Linked DNA regions of Homo sapiens: regions 1, 2, 3 and 4 are each linked to region 5. Evidence: fine-mapped expression QTL. A gene starts in region 5. Each other region holds a variant in brackets. All regions are shown on one strand. Distances are between the middles of the regions.

Evidence for each region. PIP is the estimated chance that this variant, and not a neighbour inherited with it, causes the effect.
Region 1: its variant is the best candidate, but not a certain one, in a credible set for the expression of FZD6 in whole blood (TOPMed, PIP 0.58).
Region 2: its variant is the best candidate, but not a certain one, in a credible set for the expression of FZD6 in whole blood (INTERVAL, PIP 0.59).
Region 3: its variant is the best candidate, but not a certain one, in a credible set for the expression of FZD6 in whole blood (INTERVAL, PIP 0.72).
Region 4: its variant is the best candidate, but not a certain one, in a credible set for the expression of FZD6 in whole blood (TOPMed, PIP 0.67).

What each region holds. Positions count from the first base shown.
Region 1 is chr8:103,339,410-103,345,782 of GRCh38, reverse strand. No RefSeq gene overlaps it. Among named protein-coding and RNA genes, the nearest start is that of CTHRC1, 29 kb to the left of the region's middle. The variant CT/T (reference allele first, on the strand shown) is at 3,092.
Region 2 is chr8:103,177,988-103,184,360 of GRCh38, reverse strand. The region is part of intron 1 of BAALC (BAALC binder of MAP3K1 and KLF4); the gene reads right to left. Among named protein-coding and RNA genes, the nearest start is that of BAALC-AS1, 9.0 kb to the right of the region's middle. The variant A/T (reference allele first, on the strand shown) is at 3,559.
Region 3 is chr8:103,233,322-103,239,694 of GRCh38, reverse strand. No RefSeq gene overlaps it. Among named protein-coding and RNA genes, the nearest start is that of FZD6, 62 kb to the left of the region's middle. The variant TC/C (reference allele first, on the strand shown) is at 2,720.
Region 4 is chr8:103,252,307-103,258,679 of GRCh38, reverse strand. The region is part of intron 1 of LOC105369147 (a long non-coding RNA gene); the gene reads left to right. Among named protein-coding and RNA genes, the nearest start is that of FZD6, 43 kb to the left of the region's middle. The variant T/C (reference allele first, on the strand shown) is at 3,151.
Region 5 is chr8:103,295,930-103,302,302 of GRCh38, reverse strand. It overlaps FZD6 (frizzled class receptor 6), which reads right to left and starts at 3,405. Exons shown (of 7, transcript NM_003506.4): 1 at 3,308-3,405; 2 at 2,019-2,347. The coding sequence starts at 2,195. LOC105369147 (a long non-coding RNA gene) reads left to right here and starts at 3,485. Exons shown (of 2, transcript NR_148216.1): 1 at 3,485-3,954. RefSeq lists enhancers at 2,925-2,974, 2,828-3,328, 3,329-3,829 and silencers at 2,968-3,262, 3,125-3,374, 3,495-3,664, 3,675-3,724.

The DNA.
Region 1 (6,373 bases), 43 kb before region 5:
CTGGATGATGTGCTTTTTGTGTGCACATTGTGTCTGGTTTCCTTTGCTTGGCGTAATATTTTTGAGATTCATCCATTGTTGCATGTATTAGTAGTTTTTTCTTTTTCTAACTTAGCAAAATTCTATGGGTTTTTTTCCATGTATCTGGGAAGATTACACCCCAACAGCATTTACAGTTTAAGGTGAGCAAGCACATCAGCTCCTTTCCAGAGAGTAGTTTGTCCCTGGAGGCCCAGTGCTCTGGAGTGTTCCCATTGCAGAGCTGTGACTCCCAAGGTCAGGAGCATGCAGAAAGAGAAGATGACAGATTGCTAGCAGACACCTGTCTGCTGCTTCCACTGCTGGAGAAGGCCCAGATACAAGTTGCATTGTACTGAGGGCTCCTGGGGATCCCCTAAGACGGTGAGGAAGTACAACTTTCTCCTTACAACTTGTCACCTACAACTTTCTTTCTCCTTACAACTTGTCACCAGAACTCCTTTTGTTCTGAGATTTTTGGACTTCGCATCTGAAGCAATAATCCAAATCACACGACAGCCTGCTGCAAAGATATTTTCCCCCTCTTGCCTGACAGAGTCCTGGAAAACAGAAGGCAGAATGAGGCAGGGAGGTTCCCCTCCTGTCTAAGTCCTACAGGGTACATTATTAGCAAACTCTTGGCCTTGAAGTTAGGAGTTGAGTCCAGTATCTAATCCAATCACTATTTTCTGTTGGAGTTATAGTAATCCCAGGCCTCAGGACACCCAGAACTATGAGCTAAACACTTAATTCCTCAGTATATTTAACTCATGTGGTTATGAGTCATTGTTAATACATTCAACAGATATGCTGGTTTCCAAGTTGCCTATCCAAAGTAAGGGTTTTAATTATTTTTCTTAGTGATTTGCTCATGTCTGCATACCAGCAGTCAGGCTTGGCTGACCAAAGCCATCTTGAAATATTTAACTTAGAATTCTGTATAGGACTAAAACACATCAAATATTTCTAAGATCTCTATCCAGAGACACAGGACACTCATCAAAGTTAAGTTCTAAACCAAGTTACAGTAGAAGGTAAAAACCAACTTTGCATTTTATACATTAATATCATATATAGAATCAATGAAATTTTACATGTTGTATTCCAGAAACAAGCATATTTTATCTTTTACAAAATTGAAAAAAAAGTTTATCTGGTAAGAAATAATTTGGAAACTTCTAGAACAGTGTCTAAGATAATGAAATTCATAAAGGTGCTTATTTTCATTTATATCTTGATATATAGCTTGAAATGCAATATGCCTCAATTTACCTGAAGCGTCAAATTAAATAAATAATAGAAGTTTGCAAAACAGGCTGTTCTTTCTTGCCACTTCGAGCTACCACTGTCTTCCTCCACCCCTATTTTGGAGGTAGGTGGGGAATAGTATATGCTTATTTTGAAATCAAACAATGTAGAAGTGCATAATGTAGAAAGTAAAAGTTTTCCCTGCTATTGACCCCCAACATAATCTCACTCCTCTAAAATAACCATTGTCTGTAGTTTGGTACATATATTTCTAGTCATTATACATATACAACTGCATTAGAATATAAACCAAATAGGATTATCATATACATATTATGCTATAACCTGCTTTTTTCACTAACAGTGAATCCTGGACATCTTTCCCTATGAACACTTACAGTTCTTCCTTGTCTTTTAATTAATTTAGTATTTTCACAGTATTCCATGGAATGGAATAAATTATATAACCAGTTGCATATTTGTAGACACTTTAGCTTCTGTTATAAATGATGCTTCAATTAATATCATTGAGTAATATTCCATTATTTAATACCTTCCCAATCTGAATTGACCTTGTTTGTTTATTCAGTAACTTGCTTATTGCCTGATACCTCCTGGAATGTAAGTTTTATGAGAGCAAGGACCTTTAGTGTTTTCCATTAGATCCTTATCCCTGAGATGGTGCCTGACAGATACCATAATTTGTGATTATTTCTGGGATCACTTGGCTGTTTCTAGAGTCCATCAATGATGCAGGGAGTCAAGGGGCACTCTGGAGAGGTGGCCGCCTCTGGTCCTCTCCCTGCCTCGTCCCACATTCAGCCCTTAGAGCTCCTTCCTGCCCAAGCAGTTCTCTTTTTGGAGAGTCTGATGCCTTGGGATCTTTCCAGTCTGAAAGCCAGGATCCAGTTTAGGTCTCAGGAATCCCACACCCACCCTGGCACCTTTCCTCTTTGCAACCAATCTGGCTGTATGGGGCCAGGACACATTTAGTCACTCGCATCCCCTGACCCCTGTGTTCTTGGCTGTATCTGATGTTCTCCTGAGGGAATGAATGCCCTTCATTGATCCAATGTGTTGGGAGCTGCACAGCAAGAAGTATTTGATATAAAAATACTTTAAGCTGGGTGTGGTGGCTCATGCCTGTAATCCCAGCATTTGGGAGGCTGAGGCAGGGGGATCACTTGAGGCCAGGAGTTCAAGACCATCCTGGCCAACATGGCAAAACCTTGTCTCTACTAAAAATACAAAATTAGCCAGGCGTGGTGGCCTGTGCCTGTAATCTCAGCTCCTCAGGAGTCTGAGGCAGGACAATCGCTTGAACCCGGGAGGTGGAAGCTGCAGTGAGCCGAGATTGTGCCACTGAACTGCAGCCTGGGCAACAGAGTGAGACTCAAAAAACAAAACAAAACAAAAAACTTTAAAATATTTATTTTTCTTTTGGATAAAAGTAACAAAATCCTTTAAATATCACCATGACTACTGAAGGGTAATGATTATGCTCATGAAATAAAACTTAAATCAGCGACAAACCAATGCTTTCATCTAGGTAGTGTCAGAAAGGGGGAAAATTCTGAGGCCTAAGCTGATATCCTATAGCTGCCTCTTCCCTCACCCACCCCATGTTTCCCTCTTCATCCGCCAGCCTTTCATTTGGTTGGAGGCTTTTTTCCAAGTGAAGACACAAACTGTCATTCCTAAATGATTAAGGTCTTGGTGGGCCTGTCTTTGTTGGGTTGCCACAGTTTTCCAAGGAGTGCAGTGGTGCGATCTCAGCTCACTGCAACTTCCGCCTCCCAGGTTCAAGTGATTCTCCTGCCTCAGC[CT/T]CCCAAGTAGCTAGGACTACAGGCATGCGCCACCACACCCAGCTGATTTTTGTGTTTTTAGTAGAGATGGAGTTTTGCCATGTTGGCTAGAGTGGTCTCAAACTCCTGGCCTCAAGTGATCTGCCTGCCTGGGCCTCCCAAAGTGCTGGATTACAGGCATGAGCCACCACGCTTGGCCTCTTGTTAGATATTATATGTTCTGTTATTTTGGTTATCTTCTTCGGGGTCACTAGTTATATAAATATTAATTTTCTTTGTCTTCTGTAACTACCATTTTCTCTTTCAATTTATTTAACTCTTAGTCATTTTTATTTATTTTACTATTTTCATTCCTCTTCTCTATGTCCATTATCATGTTATAGGAAATGTGTATTTTCTGTGCTGCTTCCAATTCTTTTCTATTTCTTTCCAGAGTTTTGGCAGTAATTCATGTTTTGCCTCCTTGTATCTTTTCCCCATGTCATCTCCAAGCTCTTATATTGTGTATTTCTTTTACAGTGTTGATTGTTTCACTGATTTCTAAAACTTGTAAAAATGATACGTTTTGTCAAACATGTTATCTACCCTATAGCAATATTTTCTGGGAGGGATTCTGTGTCATTTGTTTGTCTTGTTTCTCTTCTTTTCTTTTTCTTGTAGCTTTATTGTATAGGTCCTCAGTTCCACTTTAAAATTGCTATTCATTTTTTGATGAGTTGAATTGCTTCTGAACCAACTATTGTGTAAGAGTTCATGTAAGTGAGAAGCCAGAGTATTGTTCCAGCGTAACAGGAATTCTTATTTTGACACAGGATTGTGCATACGACCTCTTTCAATCTTTTCTCTAACTAATTATCAACACAGGGCTAAGAAGAAAGCAGAGCCTCTTCTTTTTCACTTTATTTACAAATAGATTTACCAAATACCTCTGTAGTTTGTCTGAGTGAGTGCTCATTTAGTTATACCTCCCCCTGATTTTTGAGAATGTATGTTGATGTTAAACCTGCCACTGGAGAATGTGGCTTATTGTGAGAGTCAAATGGGCTTGCTTGTGTTCCTGGCCTCCTGATCCTCCCAAGATTAGATCTTAGAACACATCACCCAAGGCAAAATTTGGTCTTCAGAACAGACCCATTTACCTGAGTGTGTGTGATAGAGGCTTGACGTGTGGTTTTCTTAGGAATTCTTAAGTGGTGTTCCAAAAGCTTCACACACACACACACACACACAGATACACAGATACACACACACACAGACATGCACTTGATATTTATAAATTTTAAAACCTAGGGTGCCAATTACACCTTTTTGTTTGCCTTAGTAAACAGGGCTTTATAACCAGTAAATGGTCCTGTGTCCCAATCCAGAGAAATATGGAAGAAGGGTCTTAGTAAAATATTTTAAAAATCATAAGGTTCTATTATTCCCATGGGTCTCTGTTCTATGTATGAGACATAATCTTAACTCCTTGGTATATCTCAAGTTCCGTGCCGTGAGGACCTGGTCTAGAGCTTGAAGTACAGATGACAGTGGACTTTATCACCTCCTCCCACTCCCAGAAAATGAGGAGGAGGAACTGTAACATGCATCCCAGTCTGAATACCAGACTCTAGTCCTGAAAAACATAAAATCAACCCAAACCTTGATGTAATCACTATACATTACATATATCAAAACGTTGTTGTGTATCCCACAAATAGGTACAATTATTATGTGTCAATTAAACAATTAAAAAATTAAAAAAATTTTTGGCCGGGTGTAGTGGATCATGTCTGTAATCCCGGCACTTTGGGAGGCTGAGGTGGGTGGATCATCCTGGCCAACCAACATGGTGAAACCGTGTCTCTACTAAAAATACAAAAATTAGCTGGGCATAGTGGCACGTGCCTGTAGTCCCAGCTACTTGGGAGGCTGAGGCAGGAGAATCACTTGAACCTGGGAGGCAGAAGTTGCAGTAGACGAGATCACATCACTGCACTCCAGCCAGGGTGACAGAGCAAGACTTTGTCTCAAAACAAAACAAAACAAAAATTTTAAAGACAGAAAAATGCTGTTGAGAGTCACTGAGTTCAGGGTCTATAGTGTGCAGGTTATCTTGCCAAAATATCATATACTTTTTCTTCTTGGCTATATTCTAGAGGTTGAATGGCAGATCTAGCAGTGATAGAAGAATATCTTTGGGAGACTCTAGTGGTCTCCTGGGCCACAGCTGGGGCTTACCTTTCACTGATGTATTAAGTATTCTTATTGGAACATTTTGTCCTCTTGGTTAAAAATAATGAATCTTTGGTTTAAGTGTCAGATGGTTAGGAAAGTTATTTTTGCTATTGGCAAACATATTAAGAGGAAAAATTGACTCATCTGGTCTAGAGGGAAAGGACTAGGTTAAATTCTAAAATCAAAACCTAATCTCTTAGCAGCTTAGGCAGTAGGCAAGTACAGACAAGAAACTTAGGCCCTTCACAGTTCAGCCTATGTAGGAACTATCCATCAATTTGGGAAATGCTGATCAAAATTCGATGGTCCCCATGAACACTTAGCCATGGCTACTAGGACAAAGCGAGCTATAAACAGACAACTTTCTCAGCTCCATGGGCTCCTGTGCCTCTGTCAGAACTCAAGGGCCTGGGTCAACTGCATGGCTCTAAGGGACATGGGTGAATATATTGCTGGAGTTTCCAGAGAAAAACGGGGGTTTATCTTCTGCAGAAAGCCACGAATGCCTTAGATTCTCCCTAACCTCAGATCTCACTTTTGAGCAGTTTCTCAACTTGAGGTTGAGGCATATAGAAGTAAATTGTGGTGATGTGTTGCCCACTGCTGGGGGCACTTGAGGTACTGGTGGTGTGTGCACTAGGGTGTGGACAGGAGGAATCGGCCCTGGTGGGTGTTCCACTGAACGCAGCCTACCTCAGCTTCCTCTCCTTCACCTGTGTCCCTGATGTCTCACCCTGGGAGGCTCCTCTGTCTTCCCTGTGCGGGAACAAATCAGCAGGTCTGGGCTTTATTTGTGGGGGTGGGAGTCAAATCTGGAGAAGGGACTGAAGAGAAAGAAGCAGGCACAGAGGTTCCCAATAAACATGTGGTGATTGCCAACTAAAGAGAATATGGTTCCAGAGAAAGGAGAAGCGCAGGATTGAGGAGCCAAGGGGAGTTTGAACTGGATGCACCGGTGGCTTTTCCCGACCTCAGCGGTGTGGGCTGCCCCTTCCTGGCCTGCAGGTGTGTGGCCCACATCCCCAGAAATAATGGCTGCTTCAGGCTCAGACTCAGGTAGATGTGGCTGAATCCACGAATTAGCT
Region 2 (6,373 bases), 120 kb after region 5:
AGGCAGAATAACCCTCGGTCCCAAAGATGTCCACTCCTAAGCACCAGAACCTGTGAATATATGAGGTTCCACAGCAAAAGGGAATTCAGGTTGTAAGTGGAATTAAGGTTGATAATCAGCTGGTCTTAAAATAGATTATCCTGAAATATCCTGGTGGGCCCAATGTAATCACCAAAGTCCTTAAAGGTAAAAGAGGGAACCAGAAGAGAGAGACTCAAAGGAGATATGACTGTTTTTAAAGGCACAGAGAGATGCAATGTTGCTAGTTTTGAAAATGAAGGAAGGGCCATGAACAAAGGCATGCAGGCTGCCTCTAGAAGCTGGAAAAGGAAAGGAAATGGATTCTCCCAAGGAGCCTCCAGTAGGGCATGCAGCTCTGATGACAACATATCAGGCTTCTAACCTATGGAGCTGGGAGATAATACATTTATATTGTTCAAGCCACTAAAGTTGTGGTAGCTTGTTGCAGTAGCAATGGAAACGAACACACTTCACATCATGGGAGTTTCCCATTCTGTTTTCAGGGACCATGCCCAGGAATTCAGTTAATACCTAATGGTACTCTGTAAACTTAGGTATTCCAGTGACACAACCATAACTTCTATGCCTGCAACCAGCTTCAATAATTATATGCCTAGGTTCATGAGCAGGTATGGAGCAGAGGTGGTGGGGCTGGATAGCTACTCACTGCAACTTTGTTGGAAAAGAACTGACCACTGCTAGCAATTCCACGGCAGTCATACTGAAGCCTGAGTGTCCACCCACTGCCGGAAAATATGCTTCATGACACCTGGGCCTGAGAGGCTCTCCCAAGCTATAGATTACCTGGTTTTGCAGAGTTGTCCCATACCCACCTCCCCAGATCTGGTCCCCCCATACCCTCTCTTACCTGTACATGGTGTGTGGCCATGCTACCTGCACAGTCCTTCTTGAACCAGCAGAGCCCCTAAACTGTTGTCTCTCCAGGCAAGTGCAAAGGCAAGAGGGTAATGGGCTAATGGGCAAAACCAGGAAAATAAGAACAGTGGAAGTGGTTAGGACTCAAAAGGGAAATAAGACATTCCATGTTTTTCTCCACTTCCCATCATCTTTGGGATTCTGACAAAGGACTCTTGGCCATCTTGCTGGTGTCCACCCAACAGCCATTTTCACTCTCCTTGGCAGACCTCATTTCCTATGACAAAGGCTGAAATGGCAATCCTGGCTCTCCCAGCTCCCCAGCAGCACTTCCCCCAGCCCCAGGAAATAAAACATGACTGGTTTGAGATAATAATGGTTAAATCCTCTCATTTTCCAGTGATGTGTTCTATGGTGAGAATGTGATTGAATTCTGTCCCATGATATGTCAAGGTCATCTTCTGTGGGGCTTCTGGGAAAAAGATAATGGAGGAAACTTCCTTTCCTGCCTCTGAATGGTGTTGCCTGAGAGTGAATGAAGACCTGTCCCCATGGGGAAGAAGTCCTGGAAGCCTGGCCTCCCTGTGCTATGGAGTTAGCTCACCCTGGAGCCTCCCTGCCTCTGAGTTTCTTGCTATGGAGATAACAAATTCCTTGCTACTTAGCAGCCTGGTAGGTCATTCTGTCACTTGCAGCTGGAAAAGCTTATCCGTGAAAGTTCTCTCACGGATAAGTATCTTGGGATTCATGCAGACCCCAGGAATTCCTGGTCAGTTAGCGCCTTCTTGATGGAGATGTATGGACCAAGTGGACAACACAATAATAATCAATAACATAGGGTCTCTACTATCAGGACTTCACAGTCAAACACTGTGAGGATGGAAACCTCTTCCTATCTGCTCCTACCTGTGGATTCCAGAAGTCATGAAGACAGTGTGAGTCTTGTTACTTACTTCATGTTAAATCTACATTTAAGTCTTACTAGAGATCATTGATTGTCAGATGGAAAATTTGTTCTCTTAAAAGCCCAGGTGTTCCGTATATAACCACATGTTACGTCTTTCTGTCCCTCTTCTCAACACTACAGAATGAGGCAGAAAGCAATAAAAGCCATTTGGGCAAAAGAGCAGCTGAATCAAGCACTTTGCAGAGTTCACATCAAAGGGGAGTAAATGTTCAAAAGCCCAAAGCCCTAGCCTTGTGCAGATCTAAACAGTAGGATACTGGGAAGGGAGCTGGCTGGAGCCTCAGAAAATGTAGAGTTGAGATGTTGCACACCTGCAGATGAAGAAATGGGGGTTCCTTGGAGGCTAATTAATTCTGTGGCAAACCAGGGTGGGATATGAAACAGCAAAGGAGGCAGAATGAGGAAGATAAAAGAAGAAAAGGCTCTGGATGAAGCAGAAAGGAAATTTCATGTCTCATGCCCGGCTAGGTGCTTCACCCAAAATCCTCATGGAGAGGGATCCGGAGTCAGCCCCAGAACGACACTGCAAAATCTATCCAGTATATAAAGTATGGTTATATATATGAATACATTTCTTATGTTCAGTGAACAGCATAAGGTATGTTCTATAACATGGATTTGGAGTTCTTAACTTTGGTTGCAAAATCCCAGGTTAAAAGAAGCCAACTTTTCACCTGCTACCTAAGTGGGTGCCACCACCAGTATGCAGCATGTTTGGCCCATAGAAACTGCTAATAAATATTAGTTTTAATATCAGCTACTATTAACCAAATTCTCATTTATTTTGTTATGGCTATTAGGTCCAAATCCCCTGTAGCTGTGGCCCTAGGTCCCGAGGAAATCAATGTACACTAAGACAGAAACTATTTAGCTACAGCACATGGAGAATTTTATTAGCGGCATGGGGTTACCTAAAGATATTCCTGGCCGGGCGAGGTGGCTCACACCTGTAATCCCAGCACTTTGGGAGGCCAAGGCGGGCAGATCACGAGGTCAGGAGATCGAGACCATCCTGGCTAACATGGTGAAACCCCCATCTCTACTAAAAATACAAAAAATTAGCCAGGCGTGGTGGTGGGAGACTGTAGTCCCAGCTACTCAGGAGGCGAGGCAGGAGAATGGTGTGAACCTGGGAGGTGGAGCTTGCAGTGAGCTGAGATTGCGCCACTGCACTCCAGCCTGGGCGACAGAGCGAGACTCTGTCTCAAAAACAACAACAAAAAAGATATTCCTACAACACCCTGCTCACAGCCTGACTCACCTAGGGAGCTTTTGCAAAGATGAACACTCCAAAATTGCTAATTCCCTCCCCTTCCACCTCCAGAGCACAACCACTCACCTCTGGGGAGTGGCAGGAAGGAACCGTTGTGGGATAGTCGGTTCCTACAGCACCTCCACCCTTTCCTGAGAATTCTCTCTCTTCCTTTTAATATTCTGAAAGGCCTCAAAACCTCATCACGAAACCTAAACTCTACATCTTATATCCCAGAGAAAGGAAAGCCAGCTCTCTTCAACTTTTCCCCTTTTGAGCTGTGTTTTCAGGGATGCTATAACTGAGGTTTACTAGAGTTTTCTAATCCAATTATCCAGAAAGGAAGGAACAAAAGAAAAGCCATTACATAGATATTTGGTCATCCAGAGTCACCTGAATTCAAGAAGTTGGGCAGATACAATTTTGTCTTGGTTCATTTTCA[A/T]TCCTATCTATTTTCACACAATCATTGCTTTACATCTCAACTTGTTCTCCTCCTTGCCTGAAAGGGTTTCCCCAAGGAAGGCTTGCCTGCTGAATCCCAAAGAACTGGCGGGCAGCATCTCCACTTTGCATCTTGCTCTGGCCCTTATTTTGTCTAATCCTCTCCCTACATCCTTCTGGTCCCTGTTTTCCAGTTTCTCTCTCCCTGGTGAGTCACGAGGAACGAGGCAAGGGCTTGAAGGATGCTAAAGTTGGAAGCCTCCTTCCTGTAACTGCCACAACATGTGAGGTTGGTGCTTTGGATGTAAAATATCTTGGAAGCAGCTCCTGTGCCAGCCAGACCTGGATTCATGCTCTGCCAAATTTTTGTTCTGAGTCCTAGTTCCAGTCCCTTTCCTCTCTGAGGCCAAGCACGTGAGCCTTGCAGGGTGCAGCCAGCCAGGAAGTCCCAGATTCAGTTCCTGGGTGCCATTCATGCAGTTAGATTTCTGGAAACCATAGTGACCACTAACAGTAAACCACGGGCACCACCATGCTCTCAACACTGCTGTGATTTTACCCAGTTGTTCTCTTCTTCCTGGAACTCTAGTTGTCTTAATTTCTCCATCTCAGAATTGCATTCCTCCCACTCGCCCACCCTGTCCTATCTTTGGCCTGATCTCTTGGCTATAAATCTGCTCCTTTCTTCCACTTGTTCTTCACAGCTCCCCATTTCTGCACTCCCCCTGCTTATCATTGTCTTCTGGGCCTCCCAGTAATCCCAGAACCTGGCCCAGGCCTGCACTGTGGGCAGATTCACTTTTGGGCCTCACATTCCCTCTGCGCCAGGAACAACAACTTCCCTCTGCAATGAGTACAACCACCTCTCTTTGATCATGGAGCTGGGAACTCTGGTCCTCATCAGACTCCCTTAGGGCTTATCCCTGAGACTCTAAGGCCATCACAGCCTTCATCCTCAGCCTGCACTACTGAATATCCCTCCCACAGTAATTATTTGCCTACATCCTTATCTCCCCAGGAAGACCATCAGTGCCTCAAGAGCAGGACCTCGTGTTAGCCATCACCTGGCTGTGAGCCCAGCGCAGGGCCTGGCACATAATTGGTACCCACAAAGTTTTAAAGACTTCATAGTGACTGCTTCACATCCATTTGGAAGAAGACAGGATTGAATTGGACACACCCACATGAACTAGCTATGTGACTTTAGCCGAGCCATCTCCACTGGTATTCCTCAGCTGGGAAACAAGGAGGGTGAAGCAGGCCTAGAAAATCTCTAAGGATCCTGTTCTGCTAAAAGTCTGTGACTCCGCATAGAGCACATTGTGCTTCTATTCAGCACAGTGACCCTCCAAATGGTAGTTTTATTTGTGAAGAACAATTATCCAGAGATTGGGATAATGCAGAAAAGATGATTAACGTTATGCTAGGAGCACTTCCCAACAAGCTCACCTAAAGGTGTTCTGGGGCTCCTACCCAGCATGACTTTACCCCCAGTGGACATGTGGAGATGTTTCAGCTGTAGAGGCCACACATGCTACTAAACATCCTACAGTGCCCACGACAGCACCCCCAACAAAGAATTATTTGGGCCCAAAATTTCCATAGTGCTGGAGGCATTGAGAGATCCTGGCCTAGAGCGTGCAACTTGGTTTGCACATTTGATTAGGGCCAAACAGTTTACAATTCTGAGAACTGATCATGCATGATGAGTTTCTTTTCTGTCTGATAGAGAAGAGAACCCCAAAGACTATGGGTTTGGGTTTTGTGGAATTTTTTTGTTTTTGTTTTGTCCTTTAGGATGTAACTAGTTTTGTATTTAATTTAGCAATCTTATCTCAGCTTTCCTTCTTTCCACCAACTATTTTTAAAAGTTTCTCATATTCCCTTTTGTTCTGAGCCATTTATTTATTTTGTTTTTAAATTAACTTTTTTTTTTTTTTTGAGACAGAGTCTCACTCTGTATCCCAGGCTGGAGTGCAGTGGTGCAATCTTGGCTCACTGCAACCTCTGCCTCCTGGGTCCCAGTTCAAGCAATTCTCTTGCCTCAGCCTCCTGAGTAGCTGGGATTACAGGCACACGCCACCATACCCAGCTAATTTTTGTATTTTTAGTAGAGACAGGGTTTCACCATGTTGGCCAGGCTGGTCTTGAACTTCTGACCTTGTGATCCGCCCACCTCAGCCTCCCAAAGTGCTGGGATTACAGGCGTGAGTCACTGTGCCCAGCCTAAATTAAACTTTTTATTTCAAAATCATCTATAGATTGTTGTAAGAAATCGTACAGAGTGATCTGTGTGCTCTTTTCTAATTTCCCCCAATGGTAACATCTTACAGAATTGTAGTACAAGATCCTATCCAGGGTACTGACATTGGTACAATCCACCCGTCCTATTTAGATTTCCCCAGGTTTAATTTGTACTCATTTGTATATTTGTACTTAATCCTATATGATTTTATTACATGTGCACTTTTACTTATCCACCACTGCAACCAAGATACAGAACAGCTCCATCACCACAAGGATTCTTCATGTCGCCCTTCTGTTAATCACATTCTCATATTCTCTTTTGAGCTGACTTTATCATCCAGCTGTGACCCTCATCAATGAGTTAAAAAGATAGTGATACCTGCTCACTATTTATTTGTATGATAATTAAGTTTTTAACATTTTGAGAAATATACTTTGATATAGTCCTCTGCTTTTTAATGAAACTACCTATTAAGTAGCAACTTGATAGCTGAGCTCCAATGACAAGACCAGATGGTTCCTAATTTCCCCACCAGAGATTATATTAATGAAAACCATCACTCTACATG
Region 3 (6,373 bases), 63 kb after region 5:
GAAAGATGTCAAGTTTAAAGGGACATCATAAAGTTCCTAGAGCCCAAACCAACTAAAGAGATTTCTTCCTCTACATTATCTGGAGTCAGTGCTTCTTCCCAGAACCAACAAGTACATGCTCCTTAGGATGGTTTCTTGAAGATATTACTTTCCTCACCCCAGGGATGTCTAAGGTCCATTTTGTGTTAGACAAGAAGTGCTTATCTTGAAAACAGGTTCATTTTGTGGTGGATGAGAACAAAGTACTTAAATAAAGGGCCAGCCTTCTGGTACATTTACCCTTGAGAGCTGAATTTTCTATGCCAGGCTTGCTCATGTCCTGAAAATTTCAGGGCTGAATCACAGTTCAACAATAATAACCTTGTGTTTACCTTCCTATGCTAGAGACTGTGCTAAGTGCTTTATCAATATATCCTTACTAAATCCTCCCGATATCATGAGATATTTTGAGCCTCATTTTCTAAATGGGCAAAAGGGAACATGGGGAACTGAAATGACTTGCCAAGGTTACAAACCTAGTAGGTGGTGTAGCTGGCATTCAACCCAGGAAGTCTGACTTAAGGCTGCCTTATGGAATTTTTGAGACATGAATTCCATCTGTGCTCTGCTGAGCCAGTGATTCTCAAACCTGGCTGTACATCAGGACCATCTGGGGAATTTTTAAACATCTTGATTCTAGGTTGTACCCCAGACCAGTTAAGCCAGAATCTCTAGGAGGTGGGACCCAGGCAGCAATAGTTTTTAAACCTCCTCAGGTGATTCCAATGTGCAGCCATATTGCCAGTCAGTGTGCTATACAATCATGATTCTTTCCACCTGTTATTTTTTAATTTTATTTTTTTTTTGAGGTGGAGTCTCACTCTCTTGCCCAGGCTGGAGTGCAGTGATGCGATCTCGGCTCACTGCAACCTCTGCCTCCCAGGTTCAAGCAATTCTCCTGTCTCAGCCTCCTGAGTAGCTGGGACTACAGGCGCACACCACCATGCCTGGCTAATTTTTGTATTTTTAATAGAGACAGGGTTTCATCATATTGGTCAGGCTGGTCTTGAACTCCTGACCTCAGGTGATCCATCCACCTCGGCTTCCCAAAGTGCTGGGATTACAGGTGTGAGCCACTGTACCTGGCCTCCACCTGTTATTTTTTAAAACTAGAAAATAATTATATTTGTTGCTTTCCACAAGCAATAGTTAAGAGGCCAATGAGTACAAGACATTGTATACCTCCTATATTTGCATTTCCTTTCTCTTTGGGGACTCAGCTAGCTCAGGCCTTCACTTTCCTATTCAAGAAGGAAGAGGAAAAAGTGATTACTATGGTACCTAGATAATGCTTAGATTTGTAATATGTTTTAGAAAAAAAAACAAATTTATTAGTATTATCTTCAAATGAATTTTAATATTGTGGCACAACTGGAAAGACTGCTACTGCTTTATTACTGTTAAGAAAAAAAAGAAACAAAGCTGAAATTTTGCATAATTGTGTCTAGGGTGCTATAATTGATCCTAGAGAGGCACTGACAACTTGGAAGTGCCAAGATGTGATGCTATACAAAGGGCTGTGAAGTTACTTGCACAGTGACAAAAAGGAAATGAATATTTATGGAGCACTTACTCATGGTTTAACAGACAGAACATGGGTTTTCATAGACAGGCAGACATGGGTTCAAATCCCAACTCTGCAATTTACTAGCTGTGTTTGTTTTGGTTTTGTTTGTTTTTATTTTTTAAGACAGAGTCTCACTCTGTTGCCCAGGCTGATGAGCAGTTGCGCCATCTCAGCTCACCACAACTTCCGACTCCCGGGTTCAAGCGATTCTTGTGCCTCAGCCTCCCGAGTAGCTGAGATTACAGGCATGTGCCACCACGCCTGGCTAATTTTTGTATTTTTAGTAAAGACAGGGGTTTCACCATGTTGTCCAGGCTGGTCTTGAACTCCTGACATCAGGTGATCTGCCCTCCTGGGCCTCCCAAAGTGCTGGGATTACAGGCGTGAGCCACCATGCCTGGTCGGCCTTGGGCCTTTAAGTCTCCATTTCCTCATCTGTAAAGTGGGAGCTGAGAAGCCTTACCTGGCAGGACTGTATGATTGATGAGATAGTGTGCGAAGCATCTAGTATAGTATCGACGCATGGCGATAATTATGATCAGGTGGCAGACACCATGTTATCCACATTTGTTATCTCCCTTTATCTTCACAATACACCCTCAAAAATATGGTATTATTTTCATTGATGGAGGTAAGCCCTGAGAGACTCCACAATTTGCCCCAAGGCACAGAGCCATGAAACATCCAGTTAGGATTGGTCTTCTGTACCTGAAGCCTGTGAAGGCTGGCTGCCATACCTTGCTTCACAGGCCATCCCATAGCTGATGTATTTATTAGAACAGAGGGAGGGAGTCTCTGGATAATGGAATCAAATTTAAAAGGCAAACAAATTTTCAGCTATCTTCCAAGCACATGACAATGTTATGAAAAAGTCTATTTGGCTCAGAAAGGGCACTATCATTTACCCCTTTTCCTTTTAAGGTGGAGCTCTACCTGGAGAACACCCATCTAAGAAACTGAAATTGCAAAGCTCCCTCTGGCTTAAGTACTCCTAGCCTTAGCTCTATGCTGAGCTAAAAAAACAAAACAAAACAAAACAAAACAAAAACCTGGGTGAGCCATTGTCTAATCACATCACATGCACATTCCCAAGAGAATTAAGCATAAATTTTT[TC/C]TGCTGCTGGTTTTTATGGTCTCCCATGAGAGACCATAACAATTCAAATTGTGAGACATTTTGAAGTAATTTAAGAAGAATCAAATATTGCTGAAATAATTTGGGAGCTCACTGCAAGGGAACTTGGGAAATATAGCCAAGCTGGGTTCCTAGGAAGGAAGAGAATGGGCTTTAGGGAATAGGTACAAAATCCCTGCCACACAGGCCATCCAAGGGGAGGTGTGCAATGGTCATTTGGAAATATGGCATAGGAGCTTGGGATAGAGTGGAAATAGCATCTAAATTGTTGAGGCCATGGGATCAGATGAACTTGTTAAGGAAAACTGGGTAGAGTCTGAAGAGGAAAGGTTGAAAAGGGAACCTTGAGGAATACCAGAAATTAAGGGACAGGCAGAGGAAGAGGAATCAGCAAAGGAGACTGACAAAGAGTAGAATCAGAAAGACGGGGGTGACCAAAAGCAGGGTAGCATTTCCAAATGCAAAAGTTGACAAAACTTTGAGGAAACCCATCCTAGGGCTGCCCTAAGAAAATACCACAGAACAGTGGGCTTTAAAAATGAAAATTTATTTTAACAGATGCAGAGAGGTCCAGCAGGATGAGGACTTAGATGGTGTCATTGACTTTGGCAATTAGAGTATTCGTGACCCTAGAGTGTAGTTTCAGTTGGAGTAGTGGAATCAGAAGTGAGATGGTAGAGGCCTGAGAAGGAAATGCAAAGTGATGAAGTGGAGCTATGGAGCAGAGGGCTCACTGACAGTGGAAGACGTTTCTGGCATCCCAAGCAACTACTGATTATGAAATCTCAATTAGTCAGTAAATCTGTACTGGGCACCACATTTCCTGAAGTGCCATCTTAACAATTTTTAGTTGAGTCAGCTATTGCAAATATCTTTCTTCATCAGGGAGAGTGACAGGCTCACTGTGTGGTGCTCTTAAGTGTGTATGCATTTTCCTTCTCATCCCAGCTCCTACTACTCACAATGCCCTACAGCATCCCTTTATATCACCTGCCTGTCCCCTGAAAGCATGTAGTTTGTGACTTCTGTTAAGATATCTCTTGGGGCTCCTTTCCAAGTAACTTCTTATATCTGGGATAAATCAGAGATTCCCTCTGTAGCAAAACAGAACACTTATTTACTTATTTATTGGTCTTAACATCTTTTATTGTGGTACAATATACATAAACAGAACATTTATAGACCAGTGGCAGTGGGATGTATATCTCATGCTAGGGAGGAAGTGGAGGACTATCTACTGGTGGAAACCAAGTTGTGGAAAAGATGATGTTTGACTATGATAATAAAAAAGAAAGACAAGAGAGATGATGCTGTTTATATAGAAGCCTGCAACTACAACAATGACTCTACCCTGGAGATTGATCAAGGAAGCATCCAGTAAAGGAATGCATTATTAAACCAGCTACCTGCTGGGTAACTGGAACTTAATACACCTGGGAAAACTCTAGGAGCTTGCGTAAAATACGTATCTCAGCATTACCCCACCCAAGGTTGAAGGAGCTCTCATCAGTCATTGACTGATTGACAGGTGCTGGGATGAGGATAGGAATGAATAAGCATCAATAGCGCCAATGCCCTGGCAACTCCTGCCATGGGAGTGGTGAGATAAAGACTTCAGGCCACAGACAGCGGGTGCCTCAGTTAGAAGTCAGCATGGGTGCAGTAAAGGGGTTGAAGGGAAGGTAGAGCCAGTGGTGTCTGCTGTAGTCCTGTGCTCTTTTGTCCTCTGCCATTCTGATTCCTTTGAATCAAGTTCTACAAGTCTGAGTCCTGTCCCACAAATATCTGCCTCATAAAAACGTGCAGATATTTTTCTAGGGTATTGTATTAGATTGCTAGGATTGCCATAACAAAATATTGCAGGCCGGTGGGCTTGAAAAACAAAAATTTATTTTCTCATAGTCCTAGAGGCTAGAAGTCTGAGGCAAGGTTGGTTTCTTCTGAGGCCTCTCTCCTCGGTTTGTAGGTGATCATTTTCTCTTTTGTCTTCATATGGTCTTCCCTCTGTGTGTGCCTGTCCTAATCTTCTAATCTTATAAGAACACTGGTCATATTGAATTATGACCCATCCAAATGACCTTATTTTACCTTACTTACCTCTTGAAAGACACTATTTACAAATACAGTCAGTCACATTCTCAGGTATTGGGGGTTAGGACTTCAACATATGAATTTGAATTTGGCGGGGACACAGTTCAGTCCTTGACAGGTATATATTTAAAAATGGAATTGTTTGGCCAAAGAATATACACATTTTAAATTTGAATAAGTTGGCTAAGTTGACATTGAAGAGTGGCAGAATATGCTTTTCCAGAATATGCCATTTTGGCATAAGGGTTATTTTGAGCTAAAAGCACTTTTAAAAAGTGGGTGCGAACAGAACTTTTTTTTTTTTTGAGACAAAGTCTCACTCTGTCACCCAGGCTGGAGGGCAGTGGCACGACCTTGGCTCACTGCAGCCTTGATCTCCTGGGCTCAAGTGATACACCTGCCTCAGCCTCTCAAGTAGCTGGGACTACAGGTGCATACCACCATGCCTGGCTAATTTTCTTTCTTTCTTTCTTTCTTTTTTTTTTTTTTGTAGAGATGGTGTCTTGCTATGTTGCCCAAGCTGGTCTTAAATTCCTGGCATCAAGTGATCCTCCTGCCTCAGCCTCCCAAAGTACTGGGATTACAGGTATGAGCCAACGTGCTCAGTTCTTCAAGCAGAACTTTCTGACTTCCCTTTTTTTCCTGAAAGCATATAAAACTCCCATGTAAAAGATGCCCTCTCTGTACCAGGAGGAAAGAAATATCTTTATCACCAGAGACAGAGACAATTCTCTGTAAACAACCGAATTTTGTTAAAACAACTCTTATCTTTCTTTAGCTTTCCTGTATATTTTAATTACTTTTTCACAATTGCCTCACTTTGTCCAACATAGTAGGAAAGCATTGAGATTTTGCAACTTCTTTGGGCCGTCGTTTCTTTATAAAGTCTCTCAACTCACATAAAACTTAAAATTAAGTAAATCTGTATGTTCCTCTCCTGCTAGTCTGTTTTGTGTCAATCTAATTCTCAGGCCCTGCTGGGGTTCCTATGAAGGTAGAGGTAAAGCTTTGTCTGCCCTACACCATCCAACATAGTATCACTAATTCTATTTCAACCAGCAGTGTCTGACATTACTTCTTTCCCACACCCTTCCCAACACTGATATTATCACATTTTAAAAACTTTGCTAATCAGATAGGTTAAAAAGTGGCATCTCTTTTTTTAACCCAAATTTGCCTAATTACTGATGACACTGAGGATTTTTTGTATTTTTCTTGGCCATTCAACTTTCCTCCTGCCTGTTCATGTTATTTTCTCTTGGTCATTTGTCTTTTGCTTATGAAATTCTCATTTTTCTTAATGTATATCACTATACTAACTCTTTGATACATGGGCTGTAGATATCTTCTAATAGACTATTATTCATCTTTATGTGAATGTTTATCATACAGAGGTTTTAAATTTCAATGTGGTTACCTGCGCCCTGGATCTGTTCTCTTCTCACTTCCTCAAGGACTTTTTTACTCCGTGGATAATGCCCCTACCCTTCCAGCTTCAACCTCACCCTAAGGAATCCTTGCAATTGTTGAGAAACATACTCTAG
Region 4 (6,373 bases), 44 kb after region 5:
GAGATGTTACTGATTTTAAGACTGAGCGCATCTGATTTGGAACCAATAGATCTCCCCGCCATCCCCAACCTCTTGCCATTATTTCCCCTTACCCCTTAACACTTGATTGCTTTCTTTCCATTGAGCTCACTCTGCAGGGTATTCTTCTGGTTGCTCTGGAAATTGATCACTTTCTCATTTAACAAACCCAAGTCCACAATGGCACCTGACAGAAAACACAGCCCTTGAGGGAGCATGCCCTTGAGGGAGCACTACTCAATATTTTAAAGTCATACAATTAATACATGGTAAGTACACAAGCCCTGAAGTATTACTTGGGCTGATAAAAGATATAGCACATGCCCGGGGAAAAGCTCATTACATGGCAGCAAAATTGTCTCATTGATGTTTCAATTCCAGAAGGACAACTGAACCACTTACTCAGGGAAATTTTACATGCCATAAATGAGGCAGAAGGAGCTATTTATCATATTGTGTAATTTCACATACTTCCACTCCCTTGTTACTGGAAGCAACTTGGTATGAGAGGAAAAGCAAATGATTTGGAGCTACAAAGACCTCAGTTCAAATCTCAGCTCTGACACTTATTACCGGTATGACTTACATGAATTCTTTGAGTTCCACTTTTTACAAATGTGAAAAAGAGATAATAACATAGCTCATAGATATTTGAAAGATTAGAGGAGCTAATACATTCTAAGTATTTAGTAGAATGCCTAGCCACATGGTAAACATTTAATAAATATTGAATTTACTTTTAAATAATTTTTCTTTTTCTCCTTCCATACTAATTGAGTTTCCTCTAGATGGCAAACACAGTGTTAAATAACTAGCAAACAAAACATCTGTCCTCTTTCCTAACAGAGAGAGTTTAAGGGCTGATGGGAAAGAATGACACTGAACATTTAAAACAAACAAGTATCAATTACAAGTTGTAATTAGGACACTAAAAGAAAAGAACTTAGTCTGTGGGAAAATAATAGGGGGGACCAATTTAGATTAGGCAGAAAAGGAAGTTCTTCTGAGGAGGAGCCATTTAGGCCTAAAAGATGAGAAGTGGCCACCTGGATGACAGGGAAGGAACCGCTTGGGGAAGGATTCTGAAATAGGCAAAAGCTTGATGTGTTCAAGAATCTGGAGGATGACCAGTGTGAATGCAGCATACTGGAGGAGGGAGAAGGTGGCTGACAGCAGAGTGAGGCAAGGGAGAGGTCATGGGAAGCATTGCCAGGTAAGCATGGAGGAGGAGGGAAAGGGCGAGAAGGAAGGAGAAGGACAGCTAGAATTCACTGAGCACTTGCTGTGTGCCAGGCACACTTCTAAGAATTTTACATTTATTAACTCACATAACACCCTAGATGAGCGGCCTGTTATTGTAGGCCTTGTAACGGGGCTTGTGTTTATTCTGAACGCAATGGGAAACCATTGAGGGATTCTCAGCAGAGAGAGCCGTGTTTGGGTTTAAATCTCACAAAGGGCCTGCTGCTGTGTTGAGGAAAGATTGGAAATATTCAAGAGTAGAAACTAGTCATTATATTCTTAACCACTCTTTTCCTCTTACAAACCCTGTGACTTGAAGATTTGTTGGATATAAAGTGCCTTCTAATGAATGGATACAATTATTACAGTAAGTTCATTGCAAGTGCAGCAGGAAAGAAAAGCAGAAATAAAACTGTAAAAACCATAACATATGACAATTTTATACTTTGTATTAAGTCCTATGGGTAAAAAGTATCTATTGGGATAAAAATTCAAGTTTTAAAAGAAGGAAAAAAATACGGATTTCACAGATTCCTTGGCCTTATAGAAACGGGACCTTACAAAATAGTAATCAAGTTTACACAAAGAGAGTCTGTTGCAATTATTTTGCAAGTCAGCTGAGAATTTTTTAAGTGAATCAGAGATGGTGTAAGTTGCCTGTAACACTACAAGAGAATGAGACTATAGCGATGTGTGGTACTTCCCTGAGTGTGTGGATGCCACTGCTGTAGGACAGGGTTGTCAGTGCACGCTTACCAACTCACTAAGTCCTAGCAAAGGTGCTGCTTCATCAGGAGAAATATTAGCTTTAACATCTAACACTGGTACCTTACATATGCATAATCCAATGTCAAGGATTTAATCGGCATATTTGAGTTAAAATCAAGGGTCGTCTACACTGAGATTTCATGGTTTACTTGCTTCCCTGCCATGCTTGATTGAGCAGATTAGTGACCTGGTAGTGGAGAGTATATCTGTCATCTCTTTTTGCCTCTCTACCTTACATGGTGAATTAACTTTTAAGGCTTAAATAAAAATTCAAAAGGAATAGCTCTGAAGTTGATTTCTTTGGAGATGTGTGAAAATTTAGGGACTCCTTTCTTCTAGATTGTCCTTAAATGTCTGAGTTTGCCAGGACCTGGGTCTCTGGTTCTGGCAGCCTTCACTCGGCTCAAGGGGGTTCACTGTGTTTGGTTGTGTTTACATTTGTTATTGTCTAGGGTAAGATATTTGTATTGGGTGAGGCCTTTTAGACCACAGAAAGATCACTATCAACTTCAAACCTATTCATTTCCATCTGTTAGAGAAACACATTTTGCTTTTACTGTTTATAGAGTTAGAGCCAGGCTTATTGTTCTGATGGGAAGGAGAATGATGTCATCTCTGCTGACTGTAGTAATTGTTTGGGAATGTATTGATATGGTTTTCTACTGCTGGGTTTGTAAGTGTTTTCCTTGTAAATGGCCCAAGGTGGGCAGGGGCATCTTTGCCTAGACAGGCCTTTGCACTCACAGGAAATCTCTGCTTTTCCTTTTCCTCTTGTCTCTGAAATGTGCACAAACTTCTTTCCCCCTTCTTCTACCACTTATCAAACCCTGTGACCCAGTGTCCCCATGATGTGTGCATCAAGATTAGTTACAGATAACAGAACACTCTTGCTGGTTTTAGCAGAAAGGGATTTAATATGAAAAATTAGATGCTTAATGAACCTCTGGAAGGGCTAAGGGGCAAGTTCTAAGCTTACCTCCCACGAATGAACTCTGGTACAGCTCCACAGAGCTGCCATGTTCAGGGAACTGCTATAAAAGAAAAGGAGAAAAACTTGAGACCTTGGTCAAAGTTTTTGCTAAGAATCCATCATTGATTTGTCATTGTTATGTTGGTTATGGA[T/C]TGACGCAATTGCTTTATTATGTTAATGTTGGGGAAAAAAACCGTGACCTGTGTCTTTGGTCAGTGCAACAAGGTCCCTAGATTTGTAGCCTGGGAGCTTGTTACAAATAAAAGATCTTGAGCCCCCATCCCCACTCCTATTGAATTAAAAGCTCTAGGGGTGCAGCCCAGGAATCTGTGCTTTAACAAGTCCTCCAGGTGATTCTGATGCAGAGAGGGTAACCAAACATCCTGGTTTGTCTGGGATTGTTGGAAGGATTTCTGGGGTACTGGACTATATTGCTAAAACCAGTAAAGTCCTGAACAAGCTAGGACAAATTGGGCACTTAGATGCAGCTAAAGTGTTGGGAAATACAAATTTTATTTGTATCTGTTGTACAAATACAACAATGCCTGGCTTGTTGGCAAGGGCTAAAAAGGGTATCTGTGAGTCATGAGTATGAGGTACAATATTATTGAAGCAATGACGAAACAGCAAAATACTTGTTTGTTACAACTTTTCATACATCAATGAAGAATGTGCCAAAATTCTGAGCTTTCAAAAGTGGCTTTTAGTAGTGAGAATTGACAAACTGAGAAAGCATGTTTTGCAGATGAATTTTCACAAGTCATACACTCAGTTTTATAAAATAATTTTTTCTATAACTGAATTTTAATTTTAAATCTCCATTCTGCCTGGTAGGATAATTTAACCCCAGCCATTTTAAAGAAAACATAGTCAAATCAGAATTTTCACTCTCAAATCTGCCTTCCCCCCAACCCCAGTCAGTTCAGGGTTTCTACCACCCTCTGTTCCCTAGATCATGTCTAAATTCTGAGGAGTTTTCACAGAGCCACGTGTTGAGGGAGAGGGAGGCATCTGTCCCTGCTGGCATCTGCGGAGTTGTACATCATCCCTAAAGGAAATTTCTAGAACATCTGGGTTCCCCATCTGGTTTCTGGTAGTTGGTCCAGGAAAGTTACCCCATATCCTTCTCATCTCTGACTTAGTCTTCAAACCTGCTGGCCCCTCTCAGCTACTTTTGAGCCCCTCATAAGGGAGTGTGAAGGCCTTGGGACATTTTGGGTGCTCTTCCAAACTACTGTAGGATCACACGGGATCTCATGGAGTTCTTGCAGGCTTTGCTGCCTAGACATGCCAGGCTGCCATTTCCAGTATGGATATCTCACCAGGCAGGTCAGGAGAAATGCCATGAAGCTTGTTATCTACCAGGCCTCTATCAGGTGCAAGGCACAGGACTTCTCTGGTTTGGATCTGCCAGTCTATCTGAGGTTTCTGGTGCCCCCTCTGGAGGATCTGATGATGACTCTTGGGGCACAGGGACCCGCGTGGGGATGCACAACATCTATTTTCTTTTCATGTCCTTTCTGTTATTTTGCTCATCCTCCAGTCCAAAGAATGTTTATCTCATCTAGGGTTAGAAAATTTGCACCTGCATAATCAAGAATTATTCTCAACTTACACTTAGGTATCAACTTTACCCCCTTGGGTTCTTTAGAGATGTGGCAAGGACTGTTATTTGCAACTCTACATCTATTCTCCCTTTCTGCTTCAGTAACAAGTGCTGGTTTCTTTTTTTGAATCAGCTGTGTGCCCTGCTAAAAAAATTATGTTTTCCAGGCTCCCTTGAAGCCCAGCATGGTCATGTAACTACAATCAGACAAATGAAATATAAGCGTAAGAGTTGCCTGGTACTTCTGAGACGGCTGCGTAAGTGATCTGACTCAGCAGGAAGGTCTTCTCTTTGCCTTTCCCTAGTTCCTATTGCCTCAGATGTAGTTATAATGGTTGGAGCTCTAGCAACCATCTTGTACCAGCAGGTAATCTTGAGGCTGCAAGCTAGTACTAGGAGGTAACTGAAATATAGACAGAGTCTGAATCTCTGATAACCACACCTGCTCTAGCCTATCTACCAGACTTCTTCTACAAGAAAGGGAAATAAACTGTATTCAAGCTTTTCCATTTTCTGTTTTATGCAGGCTAACCAACTCTAAGAGGGATTTGGCTTTTGTTCTTGAAAACTCTTTTCTCTCAAGCTGTTTTTTCAGCCATGGGTCCAAAGATCGACATAGAAACTCAAAAGATAAAATCAGATCCCTTTTGTTTCTTTGCGTTTATATTGCAAGAACCCTTTTCTGAAGGCCACCAAGAGGACATCTTTTTGCTGCCTGAAAAAGTAGAGAGAAAGAAACAAATGCTAATATTTTAAAATGTTCTATCTTCACACATGAAATTTATCTAAGCAGTCACCATGTCTCGGATTAAAATCTGGACTTTAGGGTTTTAAAGATCTAAGAGAGGCCATATAGAAAAATGAAAGATTATCAATACAATTGATGATGTCTGAAAGCAGTGCTATAGGAGTTCGTTTTAAAACAAAAGCTGCAAATAACATTCTGAGCTGCTTCTCCTAGCCCCTTCTTAATACTTGAGTGTTCTCTCATAGCAGCCGCGAGATCATATTTCTTTGTATTGCCTACTGTATTTCACAGTATGTCCCTTAGTTGACATTTGTTTATTGATCTGGGGCTTGTTGGGTTGACTCTTCAATAAATGGCACAAGTCACCAACTTCACAAATAACTTACTGCTCCTCTGTGTTGACAATTATAGCAAATTGTATTCCTTCTTAAGGAAGTGATGGCTATTCAACCATGGTTAACTAGGTTTCCTGAAATAGGTATGTATCACAGGGCATGTCTTTCTTAATTTTATTTTATTTTTGCAAGGTTGTGATTAATTTGGTTACTGAATTTGATGGTATAGATATTGATTTAGCTTGGCAATCTAGAGAAGTATAATTAATTTCAATAAAAATTCAGCAAAGGCATTTATGTTCTATCTCCAAGAATATATCCCCATTTGAAAATCTATTCCTTCCTCTCATTAGATATTCATAAGCCGTAATTTCAAGTTTTATAGTATCAATTATTAAAAACTACACCGATTCTTCGATCAGATACTATCAGTACAATCATGTTGACAAACAGGCCCTATGACTTGTATTTTTCAGGTCAGTCTTTTTTTTTTTGAGACAGAAGCTCACTCTGTCACCCAGGCTGGAGTGCAGTGGCACGATCTTGGCTCACTGCAACCTCCGCCTCCTGCATTCAAGCGATTCTCCTGCCTCAGCCTCCGGAGTAGCTGGGACTACAGGTGCCCACCACCACACCCAGCTAATTTTTGTATTTTTAGTAGAGATGAGATTTCACCATATTGGCCA
Region 5 (6,373 bases):
GGACATTCAAATACAGGAACTAAAAGAGAATACTACTGTATATGGATAAATAGGAAAGGGGCAGTAGGAAAAACACAATAGTATACACTGAGAAATTACATATAGGGATTAAAAGTCTGAGCCAGGGTGACATTATTTTTGCCTTTTCATTTCTCTTTCCTTTCTTCTATAGACTTAGGTTAATGCTGGTATTGTGACTGCTTGATGGCTCTCTTCTTTTGTATCCTTAAATTTACTGAAGTATGATTTATAGCAAAAAAAAAAACTTCATTAGTAAAGGCTATGAGAAAGGTTAGTTATAAGTGGAAAATTATATAATGAAGAGATTGGTAGTATTAGCAATCATATAAAAGAGGTAAGAACAAAAAGCCTTCTTGATAATATCCAGGCACAAAACTACTTGGGAAAGAAGCTAGGTAAATTAAAAAGTAATTTTTTTGAAAGTAAAAAAAATTTGGTTTTAAAAAGACGTGCAGAACAAAGCTAGTTGCTACCATCTTATAATTACAGGCATTTAATAGCAGGGATGCATCTCTCTTGAGTCTAGGTGATATGAATTTATAAGGTCACTGTTAGCATTCAAACTTAAAATGGTCAGCCAGGTGCAGTAGCTCGCGCCTGTAATCCTAGCACTTTGGGATGCTGAGGCAGGACGGATCACTTGAGCCTAGGAGTTTGAGACCAGCCTGGGCAACATAGTAAGACCCCATCTCTAAAAGAAAAAACAAAAACCTTAAAATGTATGTAGTTACCACATACAAAGGAAATTAGATTTAAAAAATTTAGGAACACTATTAAAACATGAACACTACAAAACATATTATCATCAGCAAAAAAGTGAATGAATGATGTAATTATTGCTTCACAGTGTTCTCACTATATACTTCATATTGAATCAGATTGAACCATCAAAATGGTTCTGATTCATGAAAGTCTCAGTGCATCATTTGTTCAGTTCAAAAGGACATCTAGCATCAGTTTGAAAAAAACCACTGAAAGATAACAATAATATAATCTGTACTATCCTTTTAAATAACATCTACTTAGTATTTATAAGCTTTCCTATTCCAGACATGAGTCCACAATGAGGCAGTCAGACAACTATTCAACTGAACAACAATAGAAAACTTTCAAAGCTGCAAAATCAAATCTAATCAATTTTAAAAATAGTATATATATTAAATTTGTAGGGATTTCCTCTCTTAGCAACAATCTGAGGGAAAAAAGCCTTTACTATTCTGTTTTTCTGGAGAAAAACTACAAAAACAATGCATGTGTCTAGTTTCCTTCAGGAGACTTAACAACCTAACAAATCTGTATGGGAAGGCAGGTTCCTGTCTGTACAGGTAGCTTTCTTCTCACACTCCCTAGTAATTTGCATATCTCTAAACCAGAGACAGGTAACTAAGGCACCTAAGGCAATCTTTAGTGTCACTGTACTCCTCCCAAGTGGTTTCTTTTAACAAGTATCTTATAAAGAACATATAAGTGCTATGCTTAGAAAACAAAGTCACTTTTTAGTGACTTTGTGATAGCCTTAAAATACAGTCTACAGCAACAAAATATTCTGATAATTTATTTATTTCAGAAAAACTGTACCAAGTGAATATTACAACTACTTATAAAAACTTGTAAATTTCTTCAGTTTTAGTCCAGGCAATAAATATTACATGTTCAGTGAAGTAGAAAAATATTCAGAATTCGCATTTCTAGAAGAACTATCATACTTGATTCAGGAAAGCAAAATATTTTCTAGGTACAAGGTATTTAGAAATCATGTGTAACCATACTTCATTATATAAAATGAACCCTATTCAAACGAATCTACTAAACAGGGCCGCAAAGGTACACAAAACATAAGTCAGTAGAGGGATTTAATTTTCAAAAGGACTTTTCAAAACACAACTTGTACACAACTTGAAGAAATCGGCTCTGTTTAAAAATAGACTTATTTTTACTAGTTTATTCTAGAACAGAGCATAAACTACTATTCAATAAACGTATGAAGCACTACTCACCTCCATTTCCACCGCGGCAATACTCTGGTCATAATGACCCATCAGATTAGGGAAAAACGTCATGTTGTAGGCCATTTTCATACATCTGGGAACAGTAATTGGTTCACAGGTGAAGAGACTGTGCCCTCTTAGGAGGGGTAGAAAAATACACGTCAACAAAAATGTAAACATTTCCATTTTCTTCAAATTCCTGATTTTACCACATGGCTTGGATGAATCACTCTTTGCATCCTCAGAAGATCCCCATCCAAAGATAAAATGTTCAAATTCCTCATTTCACTATTTTACTCATTTTCAGGCTTTCCTGAAAATGAGTCCTGGGTCAATTACTGTAAAAACAAAAGGAGGGTGTATCAGCAACATTTGTCATAAACTCAAATGTGGAGTCAAAGTGCAGAGTTAAGATTTTCACCCCAGGTAACAAACACTGGAAAAACAACGGAAAATTCTGTCCTAACGAGATACTCTTCCACCTGCCTTAGCATGGAATATATCATTTGCTAAGGAAGCTGCACCTCTAGGAAACCGATGCTAGGAGGTTGGTGCTGTATGGAAGACAGGGTTAAAAAGAGGGAATGGCAAGAGTAAGATGGAGGAAAAAAGGAAAGCTGGTGATTCGGAGTAAATTATAAAGGATTAATATAAGCATACAATCTAAGGGCCCCTGTTGGAAAGCTTATTAAGTACAAGAAAACTAAGGCCCTGGGAAATTCCTTAAGACCCAAAGAGTTCTTAAACTTGTAAAAGACTCTGAAGAGTCAGTTTTTGTGGCAGTCTTCTGGGTATGTAGTTTTCTCGATTTTCGTAAGGCCAACTAGAGGGAGACTTTTAGGATTCCTCCAGTGGAGGAGCAACATTGCAGTTTTCACTGGCTAGGAGGGTGTAGTGCTGCCGTCGAAAGGAAAGTGCGCAAATCTGTCCCGGGGGAAGGGCGAAGGCAGTCCCCTTGCGGGAGGAAGGCTGTAGGCCCCGGATTACGAATTACCCGCGCCCCAACACACACTGATGCCCGGTCCGCCAGCGCCCCACACCCGGGAACCTGCCCCAGGCCTAGAGCCAGACAGCAGCGTTCCTGGCCTGCGCGGCGCCGCGGGGCCCCGGCATCGCCTTTCAGAGCCGGTTCCCGCTTCCGAGGAAACTCAGGTGCGGGCCGTCCCGCCGTTGCCTCCCCAGCACCTGCGGCTCCCGGCGCGCCTCATCCCAGCCGCGGCCCCTCGCCCCTCGAGGCCCTCCCCGCTTCCCCCGGCACCCGCCCGGCCCCTGCCCAGTCCCAGCCGTGGAAGCCTCACCTCGGGGGGCGGTCGAAGGCCGCTGTCCCTTCCCGTCCCCGTCTAACCCACCGTTCCCCCCAGGGACCTGAGACGGCTCCGGGGTTGCGTCCGGGACTGGAGCTGCCTCGAGAGCCGCACGGGGAGCGAGAGCTGAGCGATCCCGCGAGACTGCGCCGCCAGGTCGGGCGGGCAGGTCCGGGCTCGCGGCGGCGGCGGCGGCGGCGGCGGCGGCGGCGGCGGGACTGGCCCTGCGCCCGGGCACCGCCTGCGCTGCGCCGCCCGGCCTCACTCCGCGGCCCGCCAGGACCCGGCCCCGGTGAACGGGCTCGGGGTGCCGAGGTCCGGCTGCGGGGCCGGGAAGCCACCTCCACCTTGCCGTCTGTTACGACCCCCGAGGCGCAAGGCTGAGCCCCATCTCGCTATCCGGGTCCGGAGGGGTTCACCTTAGAAGGATTTTTTGAAGCTCTTGGCGCTGGCTCTAAAAGAACCCACTTCCTTGCGGATTTCAGGAGTCAAGAATCCTTAAACGGAGCCAATTTGCTTTGTAAAGCCAATTGCCCAAGTGACTTGAGTTCGAAAGGAGATACTTCCTGGACAACTGCTATAAAAACAACAACAAATACTTTTATTAATTCGGGGAGCCTGGTCACCAACTGGATGCTCAGGTAGCAGTGGGATTCCAGCCCTGGCGGGTCCCACAGTTTTATTGATACAAACCCTAATAGGAAGTTGAACTGCTGTAGAAATCAACCTAGTTTGGGGTACCAACTCTGTCATAGATATTAGATAAATTACCCTAATCTTTAAGGGGCATAGTTTCCTCACAATATAGGAATGACAATAGTTGTAATGATGGTTAACGTTAATTGAGCACTGGCTGTAAGTCAAATAGTGCCAAGTTCGTTACAAGTGTTTACACCTAACCTGTAAGGCCCTCCTATGAAACAGGCAGAATAGTATGAGAAGCAAATGAACTTGTAGAAGTACTTTGAAAAATGCAAAGTAACTTGTAGATGGAGGCTATTCTTGTCAGATAAATCATCCTGTTGCAGAAAAGGAATGTCATATTTCCATACCTAGAAGGACAACCCTGAACAACCAGAGTAAGAGTTTTGGAATCTGTGGGGAAAGACGAATTTGGAGTGGGGAATTCCTCCCCAGTTTTATCAAAAGCTTACTGATGTTGGGAGACAGGTAGTGATGAAGAAATATTAACATCATTAAGAGCTGGATAGTTGATGTATTGCAGAATAAATTTCTATGTAGGAAGAATATTTTCCCCTAAATTTCTAATTTTCTACATTGGAAGACTATTTCTCTCCAGTTTCTACGAACTTAATGAGATCTTTTTGTGATCAGGCTCTAGTGACTACCAGGCAGTGAAGTATCACTAAAAGTATCATTTAAAAACGATACTTTTTAAAATATCGTTTGAAAACGATACTTTTAAAGTATCATTTGAAAACGATAGTTTTGAAATTCAAGTGAATACTTGTTCCATTATTTGGAAGGAAAAATTGTAGTAAGTTGATTTATACAGAAGTAAATAAAGCCTGTTTTATTTTTCATTGTATTTAATTATATAGTGAGCAGTGATGAACTAGAATGATTTTTTTTTTGTCAGGATGGATTTGGAATACTTAGGCAATCATCTATATCATCGCTTGTCTTTCACTGTACAATTTCATCCCAATGGTACGAGATTAAGAACACAAACTTTGGAGTTCAAAATCCCTGGGTTCAAAACCTAGCTCCAGCATTTACTTGCTGTGTGAACTTGAGCAAATTATTCAGATCCTCTTTAGTTTCTTCATCTGTAAATATGGAACTATCTGACGGTTTTCCTCATTTTCCTTCTCTTTCTCTTTGCATTGTTCCTCTGGGCTGATGCTAGGGGACAGTGGTGACCAAAAGTAGAAGAAACAGACTTTTACTTTTAAAGGCTAATTTTGCAAGGTACAGAATTATAGGTTGGTAGTTTTTTTCTCTGAACACTTTTACTCCACCTCTCTTCTTGTCTACGTGGTTTCTGAGAAGTTGGATGTCATTCTTTATTTTTGTTCCTCTATAGGTAAGCTCCTCATCATTAAGTATATTGTTACCTTAGGGTTTTTGTAGATGTTCTTTAGCAAGTGAGAAAGTTCCCCCTCTGTCCCTAGTTTGCTGAAAGTTTTTATGATGAAAATGTGCTGGATTTTGTCAAATGCATTTTCTGCATCTATTGATGTGGTCATGTGATTTTTCTTCTTTAGTCTATTGGTATGGTAGATTACATGAATGAATTTTCAAATATTGGACCAGCCTTGCATACCTGGGATAAATCTTGGTTATGCTGTACAATTCTTTTTATGCATTGCTGGATTCTACTAGCTAATATTTTGTTGAGGATTTTTACATCTTTGTTCAAGAGATATATTGGTTTATAGTTTTCTTTGCTAGTAATGTTTTTGTCTGGTTTTGGTATTAGGGCAATGCTGCTAGGAAGTATTCCCCCTGCTTCTATCTTCTGGAAGAGATTTTAGAGAGTTGGTCTAACATTGTTGGTGACTGACATTAATTTGGGGAAATTTTCAGTCACTATTGCTTCAAATATTTCTTCTGTTCCTTTCTCTAATTCTTCTCCTGGTATTCCTGTTACACATATGTTATACTTTTGTAGTTGTTTCACAGTTCTTGGATATTGTTTCTTTTTTTTAAGTCCTTTTTCTCTTTATTTTTCAATTTTGGAAGTTTCCATTGACATATCCTCAAACTCAGAGATTCTTTTCTCAACCATGTCCAGTCTATTAATGAATCCATCAAAGGCATGCTTCATTTCTGTTATAGAATTTTATATCTCTAGCAATTCTTATTCTTCCTTAAAATTTTCATTTCTGCTTACATTAACCGTCTGTTCTTTCAAGTTGTCTACGTTTACCTTTACAACCCTTAGTATATTAATCACAGTTATTTGAAGTTCCTGGTCTGATAATTCCAACATCTCTGCCGTATGTGAGTCTAGTTCTGATGATTGCTTTGCCTCTTCAAACTGTGTTTTTTGCTCTGTAGTGTGCCTTGTAATTTTTAGTTGAAAGCTGGACATGA